2 separate regions of the Homo sapiens genome follow, and region 1 is linked to region 2. The links come from fine-mapping of genetic effects on gene expression. Tissue or cell type: regulatory T cells. Region 2 holds a variant in brackets; the other region holds the start of a gene. All regions are shown on one strand. Distances are between the middles of the regions.

Region 1 (8,083 bases), 190 kb before region 2:
CTGGTGGCTCAGTCGCCTTTCCCAGACTGCCTCTGCCCTGCCATTCTGAGTTCCGACGGACTGGGTGTGGTGGCTCAAGCCTGTGATCCCAGCACTTTGCGAGGCTGAGGCAGGAAGATCACTTGAGCCCAGGAACTCGAGACCAGCCTGGGCAACACAGCGAGACTGCATCTGTACTAAAAGAAAGAATTAGCACGGTGTGCTGGTGCGTGCCTCTCGTCTCAGCTGTTTGGGTGGTCGAGCCCAGGAGGTCCAGGCTGCAGTGAGCTATGATCGTTCCACTACACTGCAGCCTGGGGGACAGCGTGAGACCGTCTCAAAGAAAAAAAAAAAAGTTCCGGCTGGGTGCAGTGGCTGTAATCCCAGCACCTTGGGAGGCCAAGGCAGGCATATCACCTGAGGTCAGGAGCTCTAGACCAGGCTGGCCAACATGGTGAAACCCAATCTCTACTAAAAACACAAAAAGTAGCCAGGTGTGGTGGCGGGCGCCTGTAATCCCAGCTACTCGAGAGGCTGAGGCAGGAGAATTGCTTGAACCCAGGAGGCAGAGGTTGCAGTGAGCCCAGACCGCACCACTGCACTCCAGCCTGGGCAACAAGAACGAAACTCTATCTCAAAACAAAAACAAAAAACAAAAACAGTTCCAATGACCACGATCACCAGCATCGGGACAGCTAACCAGGTGCCTGGATGCAGGGGTCATGGAGCTGGAATTCAGTGCATGTACCGGGACAATATAAGCATCAGTAGCGTAATATGTTACACTGTTAAAGGATGGTAAGCGCTGCTATGGCAAAGAGGAAACAGGAGTGAGGAGGGATGGGTACAGGTCACCATCAAGGCAGGCCTCTTTGAAGAGAGTTGGAAGAAGGGAGCAGTGTGTATTATTGGGAGAGGAATCCAGGCAGAGGAAACAGCCAGTGCAAAAGTTCTCAGGTGGGACAAGGAGCCCAGGAAGGGCTCCGGGAAGGAGGGGTCAGGGGCCAGTAAGGCTAGAGGGAGTTAGCAGAGGAGAGGGTGGAAGGAGACGAGGGCAGATTCTACAGGGCCTTGTGGCTGAGTGAGGACTGGACCTTTTTCCTGGGTGAGGTGGAAGCCATGGAGGATTCTGAGCCAAGGAGGGAGGGAACCGACTCAGGTGCTCATGGGCACCCTCTGGCTTCTGTGAGAGGACCAGGTGGGATCCAGGAGACAAGGGAGAAGGTGGCTGCACTGGTCCCGGTGGGAAATGATGTGGGTGGGACCAGGTAGGGGCCAAGAAGATGGGAGGCGGGTGGATTCTGGATTGATTCTAAGGGCAAAATAGGGGCGAGCACAGTGGCTCATGCCTGTAATCCCAGCACTTTGGGAGGCCGAGGCGGGTAGATCATGAGGTCAGGAGTTCGAGACCAGCCTGGCCAACATAGTGAAACCCCATCTCTACTAAAATTACAAAAAAAAAAAAAAAAAAAAAAAAAAATTAGCCCGGTGTGGTGGTGCAGGCCTGTAATCCCAGTTACTCGGGAGGCTGAGGGAGGAAAATCGCTTGAACCCAGGAGGCAGAGGTTGCACCTAAGCCAAGATCACTCAACTGCACTCCAGCCTGGGCGACAGAGCGAGACTCCATCTCAAAAAAACAAAACAAAACAAATGGGATGAGACCGGGATGTGAGAGAAAGGAGGGATTCAAGGATGACCTATGGCATCTGGAAGGAAGTGATCACAGGGGGAGGAGGGCAGAATGGGAAGGGAGGATCAGGAATTTGGTTTTGGACATGCTGAGTGCAAGGTGACCATGAGATTCCCCACTCCACGGAGGTAAGCGGGCCAGTGGGTACCCAGTTCTGAGAAAACCGACACTCTGGGGTGACGAAACAATTTGCTCAAGATCACAGGGCTGTTTACTGTGGAGTACAATTCAAACCCAGGTTTGACTCCCACCAAAACCAGTTTTAAATCTCCTTCCAACTTCTTTACAAGCTCAACCTTACCCATCTACATATAAATGTTGCACTTAAAAACAACCATAGGGTGGCTCACGCCTGTAATCCCAGCATTTTGGGAGGCAGAGGCGGGAGGATGCCTTGAGGCCAGGAGTTCAAGACCAGCCCGAGCAGCATAGTGAAACCTGTCTCTACCAAAAATACAAAAAAAATAAAATTAGCCGCGTATTGGCGAGCACCTGCAATTCTACCTACTCGAGAGGCTGAGACGGAAAGATTGCCTAAGTCCAGGAGGCTGAGGCTGCAGTGAGCTATAATGGGGCCACTGCACTCCAGCCTGGGCAACAGTGAGACCCTGACTCAAAAAAAAATGACGATAACCAACGCACCCTCACACTTCTTTGAGCCCTCTGCTGTTCTAGGTTTACAAAGCTGGGCTTTCAATTCCCTTCCCATGTCACCTCGCTGTCTTCCTGAGTTCAATTAAAGAAAACAGTAACAGCAAGAGGCTGACGTTATTGGAACCCTTTTTGGGCCGCAGGTCTTGCTTCTACGAGGCCCTTTTGAAGTGGTAAGTGGTGTTCCTGCACCCCTTGCACAAGGAAGAAAAGGGAGGCCCACAGAGCTGGGAGTCCTCCAGGCCTCATCCCTTGCCCTTTGCCGATCCCTGTGCTCCTTCCCTCGCCGGCCTCCAGATTTCATCTCTCGTCCCTAGCACGTCCCCCAGCCCCTATCCCTCGCCAGCTTCCACCTCTTACCCCTCTCTGCGCCCCGGGCTCCATCCTTCGCTCCTAACGCGGCCCCTGGCTCTATCCCCTCGCTCCTAGCTCGTCCCCAGGATCCACCCTCTCCCCTCACTGATCCCCGGGCTCCACCCATCCCCCCTCGCCGTCCTCCGGGTTCCACCCCTCGCTACTCGCCGCCCTCCGGGCTCCATCTCTCGCCCCCGCACACCTTCTTGAGCTTTTGCTGCTGCACGACGCGCGCCTTCTTGGGAGCGATAACACGACCTGGGGAAAGATGTGCTCACGTGAGGCCGGGAAGCCGGGGGTCCACCTCGCCCCCAAGTCCCCGGGCCGCTCCTTACCGCCTTTTCTTGGGCCCCGATTCTTTTCAGAGGCTGCCGCTGCCGTCTTACTCTTTGCGGGTTTGTGCGCCTGAAACTTGCGCTGCCCCTGCGCCATGGTCCGGCACGCAGCGGAAGAGGCGGGACTGTGAGCAGTCGTAGCCGGAAGGCACAGGGAACCATGGGATACAGCGGGGCGGAAAAACGCAAGAACTCACGGGATACAACGTGGCACAGAGTTAAAGAGACAGCATCCCACAAGGGTAGTGTAGTGGATCACAGTTGGAGTTTTCAAACATTACGAACAAAACGGTGACAATGATAAGCTAACGTTTATTGAGAGCTTATGTGTTTTAGAAAACTTACAACGTTTTATGATCTTTACACATAAAAACTCAGACTAGGTTAGGGTGTGGCACTCACCTCTGGTACAGAATTTAAGAAGGTTCAAAAACTTTGGTAATAGTAAACAATATTTTCAAGACTTAAAAAATATTTTAATATCCAAAATAATCAAATTGTTAAACTACATCCTGCAGACCGGCAGCATAATTTTGTAAATAAAGTTTTAGTGGAACCAGGGTGTTGAGGTCAGTAAGCTCAAGGCACAAGTGCGGGGTTCTAGCCTCTTCAAAATTTTATTTAGGCCGGGCACGGTGGCTCACGCTTGTAATCCCAGCACTTTCGGAGGCCGCGGGGCGCGGATCACCCGAGGTCAGGAGTTGGAGACCAGCCACGACTAACATGGTGTCTCCAATAAAAATACAAAAATTAGCCAGGCATAGTGCCAGGCTCCTGTAATCCCAGCTACTCGGGAGGCTGAGGCAGGAGAGTCGCTTGAACCCAGAAGGCGGAGGTTGCAGTGAGCTGAGATGGCACCACTGTACTCCAGCCTGGGCGACAGAGCGAGACCCCGTCTCAAACAAATACTTGTTTTGTTCATCATGGATTTTTTTTTTTTTTTAAAGAGATGGGGTCTCACTCTGTTGCTTAGGGTGAAGTGCAGTAGTGCAATCAAAGCACACTGCATCCTTGAACTCCTGGGCTCAAGCCATCCTCCCACTTCAGCCTGAGTAGCTGGGGCTAGAGGTGTGAGTTCCATGCCCAGCTCATTGTTTTTAAATTTTTGTTTGTAGAGACAAGCTCTTCCTATGTTACCCAAACTGGTCTCAAACACCTGGGCTCAAGGGATCCTCCCAAAGTGCTGGAATTACAGGCATGAGCCACCAAGCCTGGCCTCATCATGGATTTTTGCATTAATTTTGATTTTTAAAAAATACTGCTGTAAGGTCAGGCACAGTGGCTCATGCCTGTAGTCCCAGCACTTTGGGAGGCTGAGGCAGGGGGATCATTTGAGTCAGGAGTTCGAGACCAGCCTGGCCAACATGGTGAAATCATGTCTCTACTAAAAATAGAAAAATTAGCTGGGCATGGTGGCGCATGCCTGTAATCCCAGCTACTCAGGAGGCTGTGGCAGGAGAATCGCTTGAACCGGGGAGGCACAGGTTTCAGTGAGCTGAGATCTCGCCTCTACATTCCAGCCTGGGTAACGAGTGATACTTGATCTCAAAAAAAAAAAACCCAAAACAAAATATTGCTTTAAAATATTTTTTATCTTGGTTGCTGAGCTTTTTTGGTGTCCTCTTAAAATTCTGCCCTGGAGATGTCACCCTAGCTCCAGCCCTGACCTTAAGAGGGAGGTACTAGTATTATCCACATTTATTTTTTATTTTTTTAATTAAATAATTAATTAATTATATTTATTTTTGAGACGGAGTCTCGCTCTGTTGCCCAGGCTGGAGTGCAGTGGCGCTATCTCGGCTCACTGCAAGCTCTGCCTCCCAGTTTCACGCCATTCTCCTGCCTCAGCCTCCCAAGTAGCTGGGACTGCAGGTGCCCACCACCACACCCGGCTAATTTTTTGTATTTTTAGTAGAGATGGGGTTTCACCATGTTAGCCAGGATGGTCTCAATCTCCTGATCTTGTGATCCACCTGCCTCGGCCTCCCAAAGTGCTGGGATTACAGGTGTGAGCCACTGCGCCCGGCCTGTTATCCACATTTTATAAATGAGGAAACCAAGGCACAGAGAGGTGAAGTGACTTGCCCAAGATCATACAGTGGGAAAAGTGGCGGAGTCAGGATTTGAATCTGGGCAGCCTGGCTCTAGGTGCTGGGCTCTAGATGGAAGGCCCTGTCTGAGCTCCCTGCACTAGGAACAAGTGTGGTCAGGGGCTGGACGGTCAGCTTTTGGGTAGCCATTCAAGAAATGTATTGAAAAACCTAGAGAGGCAGGCTAGGGAGAGCTGAGTTGGTTACATCTGGGGTCCATCTAGGGTTCCATCCCTGGAAGAGATGGTGGTGGTTAGGGCTGTCCGGAGCTCCTCAGGGGCAAAGACCCCCAGTTCTGTGATGATGCCACCAGTGATGAGGTCGTGGGGGGTGACATCGAAGGCAGGATTCCAAACTCCAATCCCTGCAGGGGAGAGAGGGGAGGCAAGGAGGCAAGAATTTGCTTCTGTGAAAGTTCTCAGGTTGTAGTCATCTGTTTCTACCACAGTGGTTCTTGGAGTTGGGGAGTCCTTGAGAACCTGAGGATTCTCACCCCAAAAGTACATGCAGGCATGGACATTGTACTCAATAGTAAGTTTAGACTCGCCACTGCCCCTAGAATGTCAGTCCCCAAGAAAAATTCAAAGTCCTATACACATCTATGCCACTTATTTTTTTATTTTTTGTGAGATGTAGTTTTGCTCTTGTTGCCCAGGCTGGAGTGCAATGGCACGATCTTGGTTCACTGCAACCTCCACCTCCCAGGTTTCAAGCAATTCTCCTGCCTCAGCCTCCCGAGTAGCTGGGATTACAGGCATGCACCACCATGCCCAGCCAGTATTTTTAGTAGAGACGAGGTTTTTCCATGTTGGTCAGGCTGGTCTCAAACTCCCGACCTCAGGTGATCTGCCCGCCTCGGCCTCCCAAAGTGCTGGGATTACAGGCGTGAGCCACCGCACCTGGCCCATCCCACTTATTTTTTTAGTTTTATTTTTAATTATTATTATTATTTTTGACACAGAGTCTCGTTGTGTCACCCAGGCTGTAGTACAGTGGTGCGATCTTGGCTCAGTGTAACCTCTGCCTCTTGGATTCAAACGATTCTCCTGCTGCAGCCTCCTGAGCAGCTGGGACCACAGATGTGCACCATCATGTCTAGCTGTTTTTTTGTTTTTTTGAGATGGAGTTTTGCTCTTGTCACCTAGGCTGGAGTGCAGTGACATGATCTCAACTCACTGCAACCTGTGCCTCCCAGGTTCAAGCGATTCTCCTGCCTCAGCCTCCCAAGTAGTTGGGATTACAGGCGCCTGCCACCTCGCCCAGCTAACGTTTTTTTTTTTTGTATTTTTAGTAGAGACGGGGTTTCACCACATTGGCCAGGCTGGTCTCGAACCCCTGACCTCAGGTGATCCGCCCGCCTCAGCCTCCCAAAGTGCTGGGGTTACAATCATGAACCACCACACCTGGCAAAACAATTTTTTTAGAGATTGTGGTCTGGCAATGTTGCCCAGGCTGGTCTTGAACTCCTGAGCTCAAGTGATCCTCCCACCTCAGCCTCCCAAAATACTGGGATTTCAGGTGTGAGCCATTTTACCTGGCCCCATAATGCTAATATTGGTTCATGCTAATATTTCATGAACTGTTTTTTCTTTTTTTTCTTTGAGATGGAGTTTCACTCTTGTTGCCCAGGCTGGAGTGCTGTGGCGCTATCTTGGCTCATTGCAACCTCCGCCTCCCGGGTTCAAGCAATTCTCCTGCCTCAGCCTCCTGAGTAGCTGGGGTTACAGGCATGTGCCACCACGCCCGGCTAATTTTGTATTTTTAGTAGAGGCAGGGTTTCTCCATGTTGGTCAGGCTGGTCTTGAACTCCCGACCTCAGGTGATCCGCCCGCCTCGGCTTCCCAAAGTGCTGGGATTACAGGCGTGAGCCACAGCGCTCGGCCTTTTTTTTTATTTTTGAGATGGAGTTTCGCTCTGTCACCCAGACTGGAGTGCAGTGGTGCAGTCTCAACTTACTGCAACCTCTGCGTCCTAGGTTCAAGCAATTCTCATGCCTCAGCTTCCCAAGTAGATGGGACTACAGGCATGTGCCACCACGCCTGGCTAATTTTTATATTTTTTTAGTAGAGACGTGGTTTCGCTCTGTTGGCTAGGCTGGTCTGGAACGCCTGACCTCAAGTGATCCGCCCACCTCCGCCTCCCAAAGTGTTGGGATTATAGGCGTGAGCCACGGCATCTGAGTGCATGAACTATTTAAAGGGCCAGTCATTGATCTAAATGTCCTGTGGGTTAATTCACTGACCGCCCTTGGGTTTATGCAGCAGGTTCTAGCCATAGCCCATTTTACAGATAGGACCAGTGAGGATCTTAGGGAATTAGAGAATTTAGGGAACTTGCTAACGGTTGCACAGCCAGGAAGTATAGGCAGCTAAGAAAAGTCTTGCAGCTAGGCATGGGAGCTCACACCTGTAATCTCAGTGCTTTGGGAGGCTGAGGCAGGAGGATCGCTTGAGGCCAGGAGTTTGAGACCAGCCTGGGGAACATAGCGAGACCCTATCTCTATGAAAATAAACAAATAAAAATAAGTGTAGAAATATCTTGCTTTTTCTTTTCTTTTTTTTTTTTGAGACAGAATCTCACTCTGTTGCCCAGGCTGGAGTGCAATGGTGTAATCTCAGCTCACCACAACCTCCGCCTCTCAGGTTCAAGTGATTCTCCTCCCTCAGCCTCCTGAGTAGTTGGGACTACAGGCGGGTGCCACCATGTCCGGCTAATTTTTGTATTTTTAGTAGAGACGGGGTTTCACTATGTTGACCAGGCTGGTCTCGAACTCCTGACCTTGTGATCTGCCCGCCTCGGCCTCCCAAAGTGCTGGGATTACAGGTGTGAGCCACCTCGCCTGGCCGTCTTGGTTTTTCTTTACAAACACGTGGCCAGCCAGATATTCTTATTTCCTCTTAAGAAAACCTAAGTGGAGAATAGCAAGACAGTTACTCAAGATCATTCATATAACCGGTTAGTTGTAAATTCCAACATTGGATCTG
Region 2 (8,103 bases):
ATCCCAGCTCATCCTGTTAGAGCTGGGCGACCCTGGGCAACTGCCACAGCCTCTCTGAGCACTGAAGGAAGATAACAACAGTTCCTAGTGCAGAAAGTCTGGGAGAGAGCACTGACAAGGCCAGGTTCAAATAACAGTGTCTTGAAGGATAAGTCACTTTCTTTTTTTTTCCTTCTGTGGTCTGGGCACCGCCTGGTCAATATTTATGTGTAGTGCCTCCATCTGTATGCTAGGTCAAGGGCTTCTGAATAAGGAGACTGTGGAGCTTATTGGCTCTGGAGCTAGTCTGGCTGGATTCACACCCTGGTTCTAACTATTTGCTGTGTGACCTTGGACAAGTGACTTCACCTCTCTGAGCCTCTGTTTCCTTGCCTGCAAAATGCAGGAAAAAAATAGCAGTCACTTCATAGGGTCATTACAAGAATTAAGCATTTGAAAAATGCTTAGGACAGTGCATCTCACATTATAAGCAGGAATGGCCAGTTAAATAATAATAATAATAATAATTATTATTATTATTTTGAAAGGAGTCTCACTCTATTGCCCAGGCTGGAGTGCAGCGATGCGATCCTGGCTCACTGCAGCCTCCACTCCTGGGTTCAAGCCATTCTCCTGCCTCAGCCTCCAGAGTAGCTAGGATTACAGGCATCCACCACTATGTCTGGCTAATTTTTGTATTTTTAGTAGAGACAGGGTTTCACCATATTGGCCAGGTTGGTCTCAAACTCCTGACCTCAAGCAATCTGCCTACCTTTGGCCCCCCAAAGTGCTGAGATTACAGGCATGAGCCACTGCACCTGGTTAGGCCTGTTAAATTAAGTGAAATGAACAAATTCCCACCCATACTCCGAGGTGTGACCTCCAAAAGGGCATGGACTTTATCTTATTGGTTATGTTTCACCAGAGCCTAGCATATAGCAGGTGGTTAGTAAAGGCTGGGTGAAAGCAAGATATGAGGTTGGAATGTGTTTGTGGCTGAGAGATGAAAATCTGACCTCTAAATCTAGGATTTGCAGACTTCTGTAAAGAACCAGATAGTGGGCTGTATCTGGCCTGCAGGACGTTGACTGCTAACTTCTGCTATAAATCACAGTGAGAGGTTAATGGGAACTAAGAGAGGATGTTTCAGATGGTCCTTTCTGGAGAGATGGTGATATCAAACGCCCTTAAGTCTCAAATAGGAAGGCCTATTTATTTTTCTTATTAACATTTATGAAGCACGTTATCCTGTCCACATGCCAATCAGTGCCATAGGCACTCATACTCTCTTTTTTATTTTTAGGACAATCTTGGAAAATCATATCTTTAATTACTCCTCCCTCCTTTTAATTTAATTTTTATTTTTTTATTTGTGCAAATATATAGGATATATGTGCAAATTCCTTCTTCTTCTCTTTTTTTCTTTAAATAGATAGGGGGCCGGGCGTGGTGGCTCACACCTGTAATCCCAGCACTTTGGGAGGCCGAGGCAGGTGGATAACTTGAGGTCAGGAGTTTGAGACCAGACCAGCCAACATGGTGAAACCCCATCTCTACTAAAAACAACAAAAAAATTAGCTGGGCATGGTGGTGCACACCTGTAATCCCAGCTACTCGGGAGGCTACAGCAGGAGAATCCCTTGAACCCAGGAGGCAGAGGTTGCAGTGAGTCAAGACTGCACCACTGCACTCCAGCCTGGGCAACAGAGCGAGACTCTGTCTCAAAAAAAAAAAAAACCAAATAAATAAAGAGACAGGGTCTCGCTCTGTTGCCCAGGCTGGAGTGCAGTGGTGCAATCATAGCTCACTGCAGCCTTGAACTCCTGGGCTCGGGTGATCCTCCTGCCTCAGCCTTCTGAGTAGCTGAGACTACAGGTGGACACCACCACACTAGCTAATTAAATTTTTTTTTGTGGAGACAGGGGTCTTTCTATGTTGTCCAGGCTGGCCTCAAACTCCTGGCCTTTAGCAATCCTCCTGCCTCAGCCTCCTAAGTAGCTGGGATTATAGGAATGAGCCACAGTGTCTGGCTCACCTCTTCCCTTTTTTAAATTAGGAAACTAGGGCCCAGAATGGTTAAAAAAAACTTTCTCAAATTCATACAAGTTTAACTGGGTCCATTTTCTTTGTTTCTTTGTTTCTTTTTTTTTTGAGACAGATTCTCACTGTATCCCCCAGGCTGAAGTGTAGTGGTGCACTTCTCGGCTCACTGCAACCTCTGGGTTCAAGTGATTCCCATGCCTCAGCCTCCTGAGTAGCTGGGATTACAGGCACCTGCCCACCACACCTGGCTAATTTTTTAATTTTTATTTTTTAGTAGAGGTGCGGTTTCACCATGTTGGCCAGGCTGGTCTCAAACTCCTGACTTCAGGTGATCTGCCTGCCTCGGCATCCCAAAGTGCTGAGATTACAGGTGTGAGCCACTGCACCTGGCCGAACTGGGTCCATTTTCAAAGCTCTGGCTTCTTATGTCTGGACCAGAGAACAGCTGAGGCCTTGTCTCAAAGCTGCCATTTAAATGTTCACGGCTGAGTGCACAGGCCCTAGAAGCAAGCTTCGGAACACAGGGCAGCACCCAAGGCACAATATGTAAGGCTTTTCAGTAGACACGCATGACTACAATCCATCACAAAGTGGCACGGAGTCCGTGCATTGGTCCTGCGGGTGGGCCTGCGGGAACATTCTGGAACTCTTCAGTGCTTGCCTTAGAATGAGGATGTCCCCATTTAAAAAGGTTCGCTTGGCGGGGCACGGTGGCTCACGCCTGTAATCCCAACACTTTGGGAGGCCAAGGTGGCAGGATCACATGGTCAGGAGATTGAGACCATCCTGGCTAACACAGTGAAACCCTTTCTCTACTAAAAATACAAAAAATTGGCCGGGCGTGGTGGCGGGCACCTGTGATCCCAGCTACTCGGGAGGCTGAGGCAGGAGAATTGCTTGAACCTAGGAGGTGGAGATTGCAGTGAGCCGAGATCGTGCCATTGCACCCCAGCCTGGGCAACAGAGCGAGAAAAAAAAAAAAAAGAGGCTCCCTAAAGCAGGAGCAGGTGCAGCCCGTTGGAGAGCTCCTTGGGCTTCTCAATTGCAGAGGGTAGGACTCATTTTCACCCATTTTCTTTCCCCCTTTGGTGGGACCTCTCAGGCGTACCTTAAATGTTCCCTTGGTTGGCTCCCACAAGCACAGCCAATTTTCCAGAGTCTGGTTCAGTCTCCTGAGATCTGTGTCCAAAATCTCCAGCCCATGGCCAGGCACAGTGGCTCATGCCTGTAATCTCAGCACTTTGGGAGGCCGAGGTGGGAGGACTGCTTGAGGCCAGGAGTTTGAGACCAGCCTGGGCAACATAGTGAGACCCCCATCTGTACAGAAAAAAA[GA/A]AAAAAAAAATTAGCCAGGCGTGGTGGTGCGTGCCTGTGGTCCTAGCTACTCGGGAGGCTAAGGTGGGAAGGTGGGAGGATCGCTTGAGCCTGTGAGTTCAAGGCTGCAGTGAGCTGTGATCATAGCACTGCACTCCAGCCTGCGTGACAGAGTGAGATCCCCATCTCAAAACAAAAACAAAAAACAAAGTCTCCAGCCCCAGATTAGCCTGTGTGCTGGACTTGGAGACCCCAGCATGTTCATGGCACAGTGGAGTTTTGGAGGGTTTTCATTGACCTTGCGTCCATGTGGCATGGCGGTCTTGCAAGAGAAACAGGTAGTGGATCTTTCATTCTGCCAGCTCTCTGGTCCTTGAGCACACATCAGCCCCCCCCTTCGGGCTTGTGAAAACACAGATATTTCTGGGTTCACCTTGGGGTTGCTGATTCAGTAGGTCCCAGCAGAGCCTGAGACTCTGCATTTCTCCAAGCTCCTAGGTGATGCTGCTGCTGCTGGTTTGTGGACCGCATTTTAAGAAGCATGGCTTTACATCAGTGGTTCCCAACCTTGGCTGCACAATCATCTGGGCTGTTTTAAAAATCATGATGTCCAGGCCCTACTCCATTAAATCCAACTCTGGATGTAGGGTCCTGGCATTAGCACTTTTCAAGTTACCTGGTAGGCTGGGCATGGTAGCTCATGCCTGCAATCCCAGTGCTTTTGGGAGGCCTGGCTCCTGGCTTTAGGCCAGGAGTTTGAGACCAGCCTGGGCAATATAGCAAGATCCCATCTCTACGAAAAATTTTGTTTAAAATTTAGCCAGGCATGGTGGCATGCACCTGTAGTCCCAGCTACTCGGGAGGTTGAGGCAAGAGGATTGCTTGAGCCCAGGAGGTCAAGACTGCAGTGAATTATGATCATGCCACTGCCCTTCAGCCTGGGCAACAGAGCAAGACTCTGCTGCTATACAAATAAAATAAAAATAAAGTTCCCAGGCGATTCTAGCCAGTGTGCGAGTCATCACGTTCCACTTTACTTATGATACACTCAGCAGAGGCCCCCAGGTTTATACCAACTTGGAAATTTAAAATCCACTGGGGAATGAAAAAACATGATGGTGTCTAATCCATTTCTAAGCCAAGGCGGAATGATTGCAGTATGATTCACGGCTTGGATTCTTATTCTTTTGGCTTCAATAATCTCCTTTCTGTGTATTCAGGGCAGATATTCAGCTGAGACACATTGGCACAGCTGATTGTTAAAATATTAAAATATTTCCACACCAGTTAGTAAATAGCTGTTGCCTGGAGGCCCCTAGTGAGCTCCCCCACCCACCCAAGTCCCTTCCTGGGTCCTCCCATGCCTCCTGACAATCAGTGCTCTGGGGATAGTGCCTCCTACTGGTAGCTACATATTTTAACCTTCCCTGCAGTGTGTTTGATCTACTTACTCACGTCTTTATCTTTAGTTTTTGTGTCTGAGCACGTGAGTATCTCAAATAGATAAGAAGGTGGGTTTGCAAACTCAGGAGTGTGGTTCTGCTGTAATCTCAACATAATGCAGTCTCTCATTTAGCTGCGTTATGTTGATGGCTGGCAGGGCTGGACAGTCCATGAGGTTTCACTCACATGTTTGCACCAAACATGAGCTTTTTCAGTATATTCTTTCTCTCCATGTGGCTAGCTTGAGCTTCCTTATAGCATGGTGGCTTTGCATAATTGAACATTCAAAAGTCTGACTTTAAAGAAGGGGCGTGTCAAACTTGAAAGCAGAAGCTGCAAGGGAGGCTGCCAGGTTTGAAGGAGCTCAGATATCACCTTGGGAAGCTTGGGATTTATCCCATTTTCATTGACCAGGCTATTGGAGGTCTGTCCACCATTGGCTGGAGTGCAGTGGTGCAATCGTGTATGGCTCATTGCAGCTTGGAACTCCTGGGCTCAAGTAATCCTCCCACCTCAGCCTCCCAAGTAGCTGGGACTACAGGTGCACACCACTATGCCTGGCTAATTATTTTATTTTATTTTTTGAGCGACGGGGTCTCACTATGTTGCCAAGGCTGGTCTTGAACTCCTAGACTCAAGAGATCCTCCCACCTCAGCCTCCTGAGTAGCATCGGAGGTCTTTTGATGGGAGACCATGCACTTCAACACATCATAATGGTGTTTTACAAAGTAATTTCTGAAAAGAGTCCAGGTCAGTGGGAAGTACAGAGTCTGGAGAGAAAAATGCCAGCTCTTTCTACTCTTACGTGACCCTGTGTTTTATTTAACTTTCATGAGTTTTCAGTTGCATCATCTGTAAAACAGGATAAGAATCTGTACCATACACACTCTGCAGGGCTTTTATAAGGATCAAATAAGGTACTTTGAAATCCAGGGTTGCTAAACTCAATTGTCTACAGGGGCCAAGTGGGTAATGGTGACTGGGGCAGCTTCCATGTCAGGGAGACATTAGAGAGTGGTGAGGTCTTTGGCAAACTAGATAGCTCCAGGCTCATCTGAAGGATATAACCATTATTCAATAGAAGCTGATTGCTGTCATGCAGGAATGTAGGCTCAGCTCGGGTAAATCGTCTGAGTTTTTGAGAAAAAGCAAAAATTTCACTTTTATATGTAATCTCCTGACTTGTTCTGAACATATTTTTATCTTAAGATGTGGATAGATCAAGGAAGTAATTTGTGAGCTCTGAGTTTGTAACATCTGCTGTAAACCCTAAAACTCAGTGTAAATACTAGTTATTAATTTTGTCATAGATTTTTAAAACTGGGAGGGGAAGATGAGCAAGAGGGAGGTGTGGAGGGGGGCAATGCCAGTGAGTCAGGAGATAGCTGAACTAGGACAGCAGTGTTGGGAATAAAGGTGGGGAGAGGATCTAAGAAACACTTTAGAAGGAGAATCAATAGGATTCACTTGCTAATTGGCTGGCGTGAAGATTCTTAACATTTTCTGAGCCGTGGAGCTCTCTTCAGTTTGACAAAAGCCAAGGGATCTCTTCTCAGAATTGTGCTTTTTAAGTGCATAATATCAAATGCAGAGGAAATCAATTACATTGAACATTAGTTATAAAAATATTTGAAAGAACAGATTTGTCATACATCACTAATGTGTTTCTTTCATAATGCATAAATAACAAGAGCTAGTAACAGACCTAACAACTTCAAGGTAGTCATGAGAGTAAGTGAGTTTCAAGATATCTGCAATAATTACAATGTGACATAATAAAAATGTGGTTTCTGTTTTTTGGTTGGTTGTTTGTTTTGAGAGAGAGTCACTCTGTTGCCCAGGCTGGAGTGCAGTGATGAGATCACAGCTCACGGCAGCCTCTACCTCCCAGGTGCAGTGGTGAGATCACAGCTCATGGCAGCCTCTACCTCCCAGGTGCAAGTGATCCTCCAACCTCAGCCCCCTGAGTAGGTGGGTCTACAGGTGTGCACCACCATGCCCAGCTAATTTTTGTATTTTTTTGTAGAGATGGGGGTTTCACCACGTTCCCCAGGCCAGTCTCAAACTCCTGAGCTCAAGTGATCCACCTGCCTTGGCCTTCCAAAATGCTGGGATTACAGGCGTGAGCTACTGCCCCCAGCTGAGATGTGGTTTCTGTTGATGACAAAGTCACAGGTGTCATGAACACTGCTAATATTGCTGCAATTTGTTGCCTCCATGCATAATTACAGCTAGAGGCTGTAATGAATATGCGAATTTTCCCAACCAAATTTACAGGCTCCCTGAATTATAAACAAGTTAAGTACCACTTCATCTAGGAAGTGAAAGAACAGGTGAGTTCAAAGGGAAATCTGAGATTTCTAGTTTGGGGAGAGTCAAAGTGGAGTTGCCTAGGAGGCTATAAGAAATTGGGGAACAGAGCAGAAGAGACTAAAAGTGGGTAGAAATAGTGTTTGGGGAACTGTGAGAAATTGAACAGAGTGACTAAGCCTGTAGGCTCAGGAGCCACAGTGCCTGGCTTCAAATCCTGGCCCAACGTCTTACCAGCTTTGTAATCTTAGTGCATTTAACGGCACCCCACTTCTGATACCAAATCCAGATTTCATTGGCTTGTATACCAGTTACTGGACCAACATCTTGTGCCTCAGTTTTTTTCAACTATGAAATGGGGATGATAATTGCATCACCTACCTCTCAGAGAGATTGTTAGCATCAAATTAATTAATACATGCAAATTACTTAGAACAGTGCTTGGCACACAGTAAGTGCTACATAGACATAGTTATAGAAGGGATGGAAGTGGATGAGGTTCATTCATTAATCATTCAACAGAGATTCATCAAGCAGCTTTAAAAATGACTTTAATTGACAAACAACAATTGTATATATTCATGGGCTACAATGTGATATTTCAACCTATGTGTACATTATGGAAAGATTCAATCAAGCTAATTAACATACCCATCACCTCACCAACTTATCACTGAACACTTTGGAGGCAGAGAACAAATCAGACAAGGACTTTACACTCATGGAGTTTAAATTTTATAAGGGAAAACAGATAATATACTAGTAAATAGATAATACAATAATTTGAGGCAGTGAGATTGACAATAACACTGCGATGGGGTAAAACGTGACTGAAACAGGAGAACCTAAGAAAAGGTGGTTAGGGGTGGTTCATCTGGTGAACTGATATTTGAATTGAGTGCTTAATGAAGAGGATGAGCCAGCCATGCAAAGTTCTTGGGAAAGGAAGTTCCAAGCAGAGAGAACAGCAAGTGCAAAGGCCCTGAGGCAGGAATGTGCCTGGTGTGTTTTGAGT

What was found. PIP is the estimated chance that this variant, and not a neighbour inherited with it, causes the effect.
Region 1: it holds the start of C19orf53, and the variant in region 2 is fine-mapped to the expression of C19orf53 in regulatory T cells (Schmiedel 2018, PIP 0.95).

What each region holds. Positions count from the first base shown.
Region 1 is chr19:13,769,501-13,777,583 of GRCh38, reverse strand. C19orf53 (chromosome 19 open reading frame 53) reads right to left here and starts at 3,128. Exons shown (of 3, transcript NM_014047.3): 1 at 3,010-3,128; 2 at 2,877-2,932. The coding sequence starts at 3,106. It overlaps MRI1 (methylthioribose-1-phosphate isomerase 1), which reads right to left. Exons shown (of 6, transcript NM_001031727.4): 6 at 3,302-5,463. The coding sequence ends at 5,303. RefSeq lists enhancers at 2,063-2,591, 2,592-3,121, 3,098-3,297, 3,368-3,437.
Region 2 is chr19:13,576,185-13,584,287 of GRCh38, reverse strand. No RefSeq gene overlaps it. Among named protein-coding and RNA genes, the nearest start is that of CACNA1A, 74 kb to the right of the region's middle. The variant GA/A (reference allele first, on the strand shown) is at 3,355.